2 separate regions of the Homo sapiens genome follow, and region 1 is linked to region 2. The links come from fine-mapping of genetic effects on gene expression. Tissue or cell type: whole blood. Region 2 holds a variant in brackets; the other region holds the start of a gene. Each region is shown on its reference strand, or each on the opposite one. Region 1 holds the start of AGAP2 (ArfGAP with GTPase domain, ankyrin repeat and PH domain 2). Region 2 overlaps RREB1 (ras responsive element binding protein 1).

The links.
Region 1: it holds the start of AGAP2, and the variant in region 2 is fine-mapped to the expression of AGAP2 in whole blood (TOPMed, PIP above 0.99).

What each region holds. Positions count from the first base shown.
Region 1 is chr12:57,737,130-57,741,503 of GRCh38, reverse strand. It overlaps AGAP2 (ArfGAP with GTPase domain, ankyrin repeat and PH domain 2), which reads left to right and starts at 2,762. Exons shown (of 19, transcript NM_001122772.3): 1 at 2,762-4,374. The coding sequence starts at 3,258. RefSeq lists an enhancer at 137-216 and a silencer at 3,390-3,609.
Region 2 is chr6:7,229,073-7,233,446 of GRCh38, reverse strand. RREB1 (ras responsive element binding protein 1) reads right to left here. Exons shown (of 13, transcript NM_001003699.4): 10 at 1,540-4,374. Among named protein-coding and RNA genes, the nearest start is that of SSR1, 82 kb to the left of the region's middle. The variant C/T (reference allele first, on the strand shown) is at 1,837.

The sequences.
Region 1 (4,374 bases), not on the chromosome of region 2:
TCTCCAGCTGTAGAGAGAAACACATGCACACACATACACACACACACACACGCATGCACATTGAAGTACACCATGCAGAGAATCTCAGGCTCCCAAGCGCATACTAACTCTCACACACTATGCTCTGCAGAGCCAAAGTGCAGATAGGTCCCCAGAACTCTTCTTGGTCCCCTCTCCTCCCCTTGCTCCTGTTCCTGTCTTCCCCCCACACACCTTCCGCTCTACCTCCTTAGTGCCATTAGAGCAAGTGATGACAACACAGGGAGGAAATGCTGCCATGGCAACACCATCCGCCACATCCTCCTGCCCACCCCAGGCTTCAGTCCTGTGGTGGAGCCCTGGCAGGAACAGCTTCTCTCCATCCACAAGGCCCTACCACTGAGGAACTGGTGGAACTGGAGGTTGTTCCAGCTCGCTGTCATTCCATTCACCTCTGATGCAGCAAAGAGCTAACAAAAGCAGCCTTCTTTGCTCATGAAAGGTGTCTGGTGGAAACACTTCTTCCATCATATCCTGATCTCTTCCAGCCATTTCAGTCTTCTCCATTGTTACCTGCCTACCTGGGTGGTTGTCAAGAGATCATTCTTTCCCTCAAGGACACCTCCTGCCAGACCTCTCTGCTAGTACACCAGAGTATAACTTGGGGAAGGAACAGCTTGCTTTGGATGCCTAGTGGGACAGTCTGATGATCCCCTTCCCATTGTTCTTCGGAGGCTAGTGCCCCTCTCACCTCCTGTCCCATACCCTTTGCCAGGAACTACACCTGAAGCTTCCCCTGACAGCCTTAGTGTTTGGAAAGGCAGACCAAGGGGGAGTGGGCCATGGGGCCTCCTAGGGAGAAACTCTAAGCCCCACCCCTCTCAAAAATAATAATGATAATAATAATAAAGGAGAAGAGCGGTTTAGGCCAGGCAGAAAAGCTGTGCTTAGCTCTGGAGAGGGAGGAGGGTGAGGAGGGGTGGAGGTGGAAATCCCTGAGAAGGCTTCACTCCTCATAAGTGATTTGTTTTACTCCTTCTCTAAGAATTAGTATTCTGTTCCCATTGAACATAAAGGAAAACCGAGGCCATCAAAGGAGGGAAGTTTAAGCCAGAGCCAACAATTCTCCTTCACCCTCTCCATCAAAAAACACTACTGAAGGGTCTCCTGTCCTGGGGATGGTGTCATCTTGGTTCTGTAGGGAGGGAGGGAGAAACTGCTGAGCCCCAGGACAGAACATTGGAGGGATTGGATACAGGCCTCTGGGAGAACAAAGGGCTCCTGGCATCCTGGCTCAGCCCCCCCACCCTCAGCCCCCCACCAGGCCAAGCACGCTGCGGGCTCCTGCCTCCAAGAGCCGCCCACGGCAGCACTTATTATAGTCTCAGCTGCGTCAGGAGGGTGGGACGCCAAATCAGGGGACTGCTGTGACTCCCCAAGTCCCGGGAAGGGGTCTCCAAGGCTGCAGAGAGACCTTCCTTCGCCCATCTTACCCCACCCCCAAGGGGTCTCAACCTCTTTTCCACTTTGGCCTAACCACTTCAGGATTCTCACCTGGCTGGAGGATAGAGAGCCTTGAACTCCAAGACCCCTAGAGGGGTGGGGGACACGGAGCAGACGGTTTCCATTCACTCTGCCTGCCTCCTCTTTAATCTTCTGAAAGAATCCCACTCAGCAAACCTCAGGAGACTGAAAGGGAACCCTGAAGAGGCCGGCTCTCACTGCCTCAACTGAAGGGTCCTTATACTTGGGGAGTGAAATCCTCCACCTGTGGGTAGCCAGGTGTCAGGGCAGTGCCTCCACTAATTCAGCATCCCGCGGTTGGTCCCCTACCCACCATACACACGGATTCCTCTCTGCTTCTGCCCGCTGTTTCTGAGGCACTCTTGGAGCTACGGTTGCTATGGAGACTGGATGCATTTTGGCATGGGGGGGTATCAGTCTAAGACACATCCTTCTCCCTCCTCCTAGAGCTGGAGCCTTTGACTTACCCTGTGGCCTGGGCTCCTCCAGCACTCAGATCTCTCCCTTCTCTCCTACCCTGCTAAGTTCCATGTTTGTCCCCATCCCTGGGGAACATTTTCCAAGTTCACTTTGGGACAGTCGAGCTCAAGTCTTGGCCCCGTCAAAGTATTAAATGTGGTGGTGTGAGTGGGAAAGGGAGCTGGGTCATGAGAACGGGAACCGTCCAGGTACCTGGGGGAGACAAGAGATCCTGGGGGAAGGGATTTCAGGGCCCCCACTTTCCCACTTCATCTTCCCCAGAATTGGCAGTGACCCTGGGTTTGCTCTGTTTACCGCGGCCCCTGTCCACCCAATAGATCGATTTTCACCCTTATCCCTAAATGCCATACCTCACAATCGCGCTTCCTAACCTTGGTGCGCGAGAGGAGGGGGCTAGGTTGTTGGAGGAGGTGAGTCCAAGTCCCAGGAAATCCAGCCCAGGATTTGGGAGAGAAATCCAGCCCTGGATTTTGCACCGCCCTCGCAGACATCGGTGCTGGTGGAGAAAAGGTGGGGGGGAGATAGGGTGGGGGGGCCTGGGGGCCGCCTCCTCCTCAATGTGAGGGGAGCGCCCGGACACAGCGCGCATCCGGACCAAGCCGAGCCCAGGCGAGGCCCCCGGACTCTTCGCCCGGATCTCACGCCCCTCCCCTCCCAGACCCCAGACCCGTGGGTTCCCACCCACCTCCCGTTCCCTCTTTCCTCCCCCGCCGCCTCCTGTATCTCCATCCCCAGCATCCTCCCCGCGCCCCTGCGAATCCCCCGCACGGCCAGCCCCACTAGCTTCCCACCCTCCTCTAGACCCTCTTTCCGACCGCATCCGCGGCCCCTGTCCCTTGAGTCCCAATTCCCCGCCCCTGCCTCCCCCGCACAGGTTCGTTTCCCCTAGCCTCCGGTCCCCTTTTCTGCTCCCTTTTCCTCTCTCTCCCCCATTTGCCCCCACTACTGTCCTCCCCGCCCTCCCCCACCCATCTCAGCGCCCCCACCCAGGCCGGGGTGGACGGTCCGGCGCGCCTCCCTGGAGCAGCACCAAGGTCCCGGGGCTCCAAGAGGGTGGGGGCGCAGGGCGGGGAGCATGGGGAGGGGGCGCCCCATGTGATGGGAGGGGGGCGCAAGCGGAGGCGGCGGAGGCGGCGGCGACAGCGGAGCCGGGCCGGGGGCTCAGCGGGGTCCGGGGGCTGGGGGCAGCGAGCAGGGCGGCCCCATGGCCGGGCCCCCCTGAGGCAGTCCGGGGGAGTCCCCTCCCCTCCCCAGCTCGGGGGTCTCCGGGCCCCATGAGCCGGGGCGCGGGCGCGCTTCAGCGCCGGACAACGACCTACCTCATCTCGCTGACCCTGGTTAAGCTCGAGTCGGTGCCTCCGCCGCCGCCTTCTCCGTCTGCGGCCGCGGCCGGCGCCGCCGGTGCCAGAGGCTCCGAGACTGGGGATCCTGGCAGCCCCCGAGGCGCGGAGGAGCCGGGCAAGAAGCGGCACGAACGTCTCTTCCACCGGCAGGATGCGCTGTGGATCAGCACGAGCAGCGCGGGCACCGGGGGCGCGGAGCCCCCAGCCCTGTCCCCGGCTCCGGCCAGTCCGGCCCGCCCAGTCTCCCCCGCTCCCGGCCGCCGCCTCTCCCTCTGGGCCGTCCCTCCGGGACCCCCGCTCTCCGGGGGACTGAGCCCCGACCCCAAGCCTGGGGGCGCCCCCACCTCCTCCCGGCGCCCCCTGCTCAGCAGCCCGAGCTGGGGCGGCCCGGAGCCCGAAGGCCGGGCGGGCGGCGGCATCCCTGGCTCATCCTCTCCGCACCCTGGCACCGGCAGCCGGAGGCTCAAGGTGGCGCCTCCTCCGCCGGCTCCCAAGCCTTGCAAGACCGTGACCACGAGTGGAGCCAAAGCCGGCGGGGGCAAGGGCGCGGGTAGCCGCCTGTCATGGCCCGAAAGCGAGGGCAAGCCCAGGGTCAAGGGGTCAAAGAGCAGCGCCGGGACTGGAGCTTCGGTCTCTGCCGCCGCCACCGCCGCCGCCGCCGGGGGAGGGGGCTCTACAGCTTCGACCTCTGGTGGGGTCGGGGCTGGGGCTGGAGCCCGAGGGAAGTTGTCCCCTCGGAAAGGCAAGAGTAAGACCTTGGACAACAGTGACTTGCATCCGGGACCGCCTGCCGGCTCTCCTCCTCCGCTAACCCTCCCACCAACTCCGAGTCCAGCCACTGCTGTCACCGCTGCTTCCGCGCAGCCCCCCGGGCCTGCACCTCCAATCACTCTGGAGCCTCCAGCTCCGGGGCTGAAACGGGGCCGGGAGGGGGGCCGAGCATCCACTCGTGACCGCAAGATGCTCAAGTTTATCAGCGGCATCTTCACCAAGAGCACAGGAGGGCCTCCTGGCTCCGGGCCCCTTCCCGGACCCCCCAGCCTGTCTT
Region 2 (4,374 bases):
TTAATATTTTGGTTGTAAACTCCAAAAAGATAGGATCTCACTAATTTGCGCTTAGTTCAATAACACAAATCACTGAATACTGAGACTGTTCACTGAGAAAATTTAGAAAATTATAATTCAGATGAGAGTTGTATGGCCATTTATATACTAGAAGCACCTGATAACAAAATTATTTAAAGTATATTCCTATCCTAAACTTCTCTTTAAAAATCAGCTTCTAGAAACTAACATTTGAAAAATATTTTTGGGCAGGCCAGGTGCAGTGACTCACGCCTGTAATCCCAGCACTTTGAGAGGCCAAGGTGGGCAGATCACCTGAGGTCAGGAGTTTGAGACCAGTCTGGCCAACATGGTGAAACCCCATCTCTACTAAAAATACAAAAATTAGCTGGGCATGGTGGCGCATGCCTGTAATCTCAGCTACTTGGGAGGCTGAGGCAGGGAGAATTGCTTGAACCAGGGAGGCAGAGGTTGCAGTGAGCTGAGATCATACTACTCCACTCCAGCCTGGGTAACAGAGCGAGACTCCGTCTCAAAAAAAGAAAAATACTTTTGGGGCCAGGTGTGGGGGCTCATGCCTGTGATCCCAGCACTTTGGGAGGAAGAGGCAAGAAAACTGCTTGAGCCCAGAAGTTTGAGAGCAATATAGTGAGACTCTTTTATTTAAAAAAAAAAAAAAAAAAGAAAAAGAAAAAAGGAAGATACTTTTGGGGTATCACTTTGACAATTTAAGTTTGTTACTTAGAATTTTTTCACACTTGGGTGTGAGTTCTTGGGGATGGACAGGTTGATGGGCTCCATGGAGCAGTCGTAGGGGGCTAAGGAAGAAGGGCTCAGGAAGGAGTTGTTTTCCTGCTTCACCTGGACCAGCGCCAGGCCCTTCTGAGAGAAGTTTCTCAGAAAGGCTTACAATTGTAGTATAAACAGAAATTTTAAAACATTCTACCACCACTCATTGCTGATTTTCACAATCAACAGGGGAAGATGTGACTGCCTTAGTGAACTGAAAGAAAACAGCCAACCTCACAATTTGTCATATTTCTCTTTAAGAAGACATGGCATCCAAAAAAACTTCACAAAATTGTCAAAATTTAAAAAGCTGCATTGAGGACACTGGAATGGAATGTCAAAGCACCGAGCTCATTATGCCCCAATACCTTAATACAAAGTCTCACGTCTGTGGAGCCGCCTCCCTGTTTAACCCAGCAGATAATCTGGCTACCACCTCCGGAAGGGATGAGGCGACGCCATGAGTGATCTGAGGGCCTGTGACCACTTTCACCTCAAAACGCCCCGGATGAACACTTAGTAGAATGCTGCCCTTGGAGGGCTCGGCCCCTGCACAAAGGCCATGTGGGTACTGAGAGCACATAGGAAATACAGCACCACCAGACAAGCTCGGGGCTTCGGAGACCGGGGAAGAAGCCAAGCTAGGAATAACTGGAACTGTGGGAGATGGGTCTCGCTTTTGACCCCCACTCGTGGCTCCCCCTACCAGGAAGTAGGACTCACTGCCTGGGAGCCCGGTGGCCCTCTTACCAGTGTGTGTGAGCATGTGCCTCTGTAGGGAGCTGGCCCAAGGGAAAACCCGGGGACAGTGGGGACAGGTGATCTTCTGCAGGCAGTTGGTGTACGAGTTCCGCTTGGCCCTCAGCAGCTTGTCTTCTGGGGGACTGCCCTGCTCTTCATCACTGGGCCCATGGTGGTCGGCAGGGGCTCCGGCCACCTCATCCTGAGTGTTGTCCTCCGCTGTCTGCAGAAACGGACTGAACTTGTTGGTGTCTGTGGTGGCCAGCATCTTCTCGATGCTGGCAAACTCCCCGCTGGAGTCCAGGT[C/T]CACCCCGCCGCTGTTGGCGCGGGGTCGGCTCCTCATCCCCCTTTTCCGGCCCCTCTTCTTCGACGTGCCCGCTGGGCCCTGCTCGGTGGGAGAGGCAGCCTCTGGGCTGCTGGCTGGAGCGGGAGGCTCACTAGACTCTTTTGGGCTGGTGGTGGCAGCGGGGGTGGCGGTGGTGGCGGCTTTGGGGACAGAACCTCCTAAGCTGTCTGAAGCCGTGGTGTTACTGCCAGTGCTTGCGGGCCCTGGGTCCGCCACCTTGGTTTTCAGCAGGGTGGGGGCCGAGGATACAGATGAGATGATCTGGGCAATGGAGGCCAGCGGGGGCAGCTCTTCTGTCACGGGGGGCTTTGGCAAAAGCAGCGGGGGCTTGGGCCGCAGTGGACGCAGCAAGGCTGTGCCACTCAGGAGGGCTGAGCTGCCCACGAGTGGAGGGCTGCTGACCAGGGCTGAGGAGTAGATTGGGACCGCCAGCTGAACAGGGCCCTGCAGGGGCTGTGCTGGGGGTTCCGGGGTGGCCGCCGGAGCAGGGGCCATGGGGCTTTCCAGGATTCCGCTGGGCCCCAAAGTTACAGGAAGAGAAGGGCCGGGTGCTGGGCAGGGAGAGGGCTGCTCGCTGCTCCCCGCCTCCTCCTCAGGCTTCTTGGCTTCGCTGGGAGTGGCCAAATCCTTGTCCCCTTTCCTGAAGTTCTTGGGGATGGACAGGTCGATGGGCTCCATGGAGCAGTCATAGGGGACCAGGGAAGAAGGGCTCAGAAAGGAGATGTTTTCCTGCTTCACTTGGACCAGGGCCAGGCCCTTCTGCGAGAAGTCCAGGGGCTCATTGAAGTCCACCGCAAAGCTACTGGCGGGCTCCAACTTGATCGAGACATGGGGAGGTGGAGGCTGGGTGGGGCCCCTGTGAAGAAAGCCGTTCTGGGGTTCCAGGAAGGCAGTGAGGGGCTTGCAGTCACCAAGGGCAGCGCAGCCACTGTCCTCCCCGCGCCCCGACGCCTCAGCGGCCGGCGCCTCTGCGGGGCCCAGGCCGTCGGCGGCCAGCACGTAGCTCTCGATGTCCTGCTCGGGCACGTGCAGGTGCTGCTTGAGGATGTGGTGGATGCAGTTGCGCTTGGCCGCGAACGCGGCGCTGCACTCCTTGCACTCGAAGGGCTTGCGGCCCTTGTGGCCCCCGCCCAGGCCGCGGCCGCAGTGCGTGCGCATGTGGATGCGCAGGGCACGATAGTGCTTGAGGTCCTCGCCGCACAGCCGGCACACGGTGTCCGGGGCGCAGAAGGCGTCCACCAGCTCGGCCGCGCTGCTACTCACATACTCGATGTTCTTCTCGATATCCTTGCGGGTGGCCTTGAGGTGCTTCTTGCGCAGGTGCCGCTCGCAGTTGGCTTTGACAGTGAAGGGGTAGTGGCAGATCTTGCAAATGTAGGGCCGCTCCCCACTGTGCGTGCGCAGGTGGCGGATGAGCGCGGCCTTGTCGGCGGCGATGTAGTCGCAGATGTTGCACTGGTATGGCGAGATGCCCAGGTGGGAGCGCACGTGGGCACGCAAGACCCCCGAGAAGGCAAACACCTGGTTGCAGAAGCGGCAGGGGTAGAGCACCTTGCGCATGGCGGGCGTCTTCTTGCCGCCGGGCGCTGTCATGAAGGCCTTGAGTTCCCCCTCTGTGATCTCCTGCTTGATCTTGGCCTCCATGCTCAGCGGCAGCAGGGCCTCGATGATGCTGTCCTGCTCCAGCTGCGTCTTCATCTCAGGCTGGCCCGGCAGCTCCGCCCGCGGCTGCTGCAGGGAGAGCCGCGTGGCCGCGTGGGGCTGGGTCCCGGACTTGGACTGCAGCAGGTGGGCGTTGGAGGCCGCCTCCACTGAGCCTTTGAGGAGCTTCAGGGGCGGTGGCGGCAGGCTGGGGCTGATACAGCCCGGGGAAGCCTGCTGGGCGTTGATGAGAGGCGGGGGCGTGGAGGTGGCCACCACCGTCCGTGGTGTGACCAGGGGCTTTGGCTTCAGAGGGGGCATGTGCTTGAAGATCGCCTGCAGTGGGGCGGCAGGGGCCTTGGAGAAGGGCGGAAGACTGATCTGAGGGGGAGCCGAGGCTGCCATCTTCAGAATTTGCTGGATGTCTGCCAGCTCGATGGCCGACTCGCCAGAGATGGGCTTGACCACAATGCTGCTGTCAGGCTGGATGATGAAGCCCTTCTGGAAGGGCTGCAGGGACAGGTGCTTTATGCTGTCCTTGGTCGCGGGGAGAACTGTGAGAGAACCGCCTAGGGAAGCAGCTTCGAAAGGTGACAGGCTCAGCAGGTTGGTGCAGCCGGGGTCCTGAGGTAGCTGACACTTGAGTGTCTGGAGCTGAATTGCCTGGTTGTCATCCGGCAGGGGCTCCTCGGCGGGGGCAGGCCTGACGTCTTTGGTGTGCTGCAGGCCAAGCAAGGCCAGGAAGCCCTTCTGGTCCAGGGCGTCACCAGGCAGGGGCGTGGCCTGCGGCTTTTCTTGACCCTGGTCTGCCGCCACATGGGTCTGCTTGTGCAGAGCCAGTGAGCAGAGCATGGGGA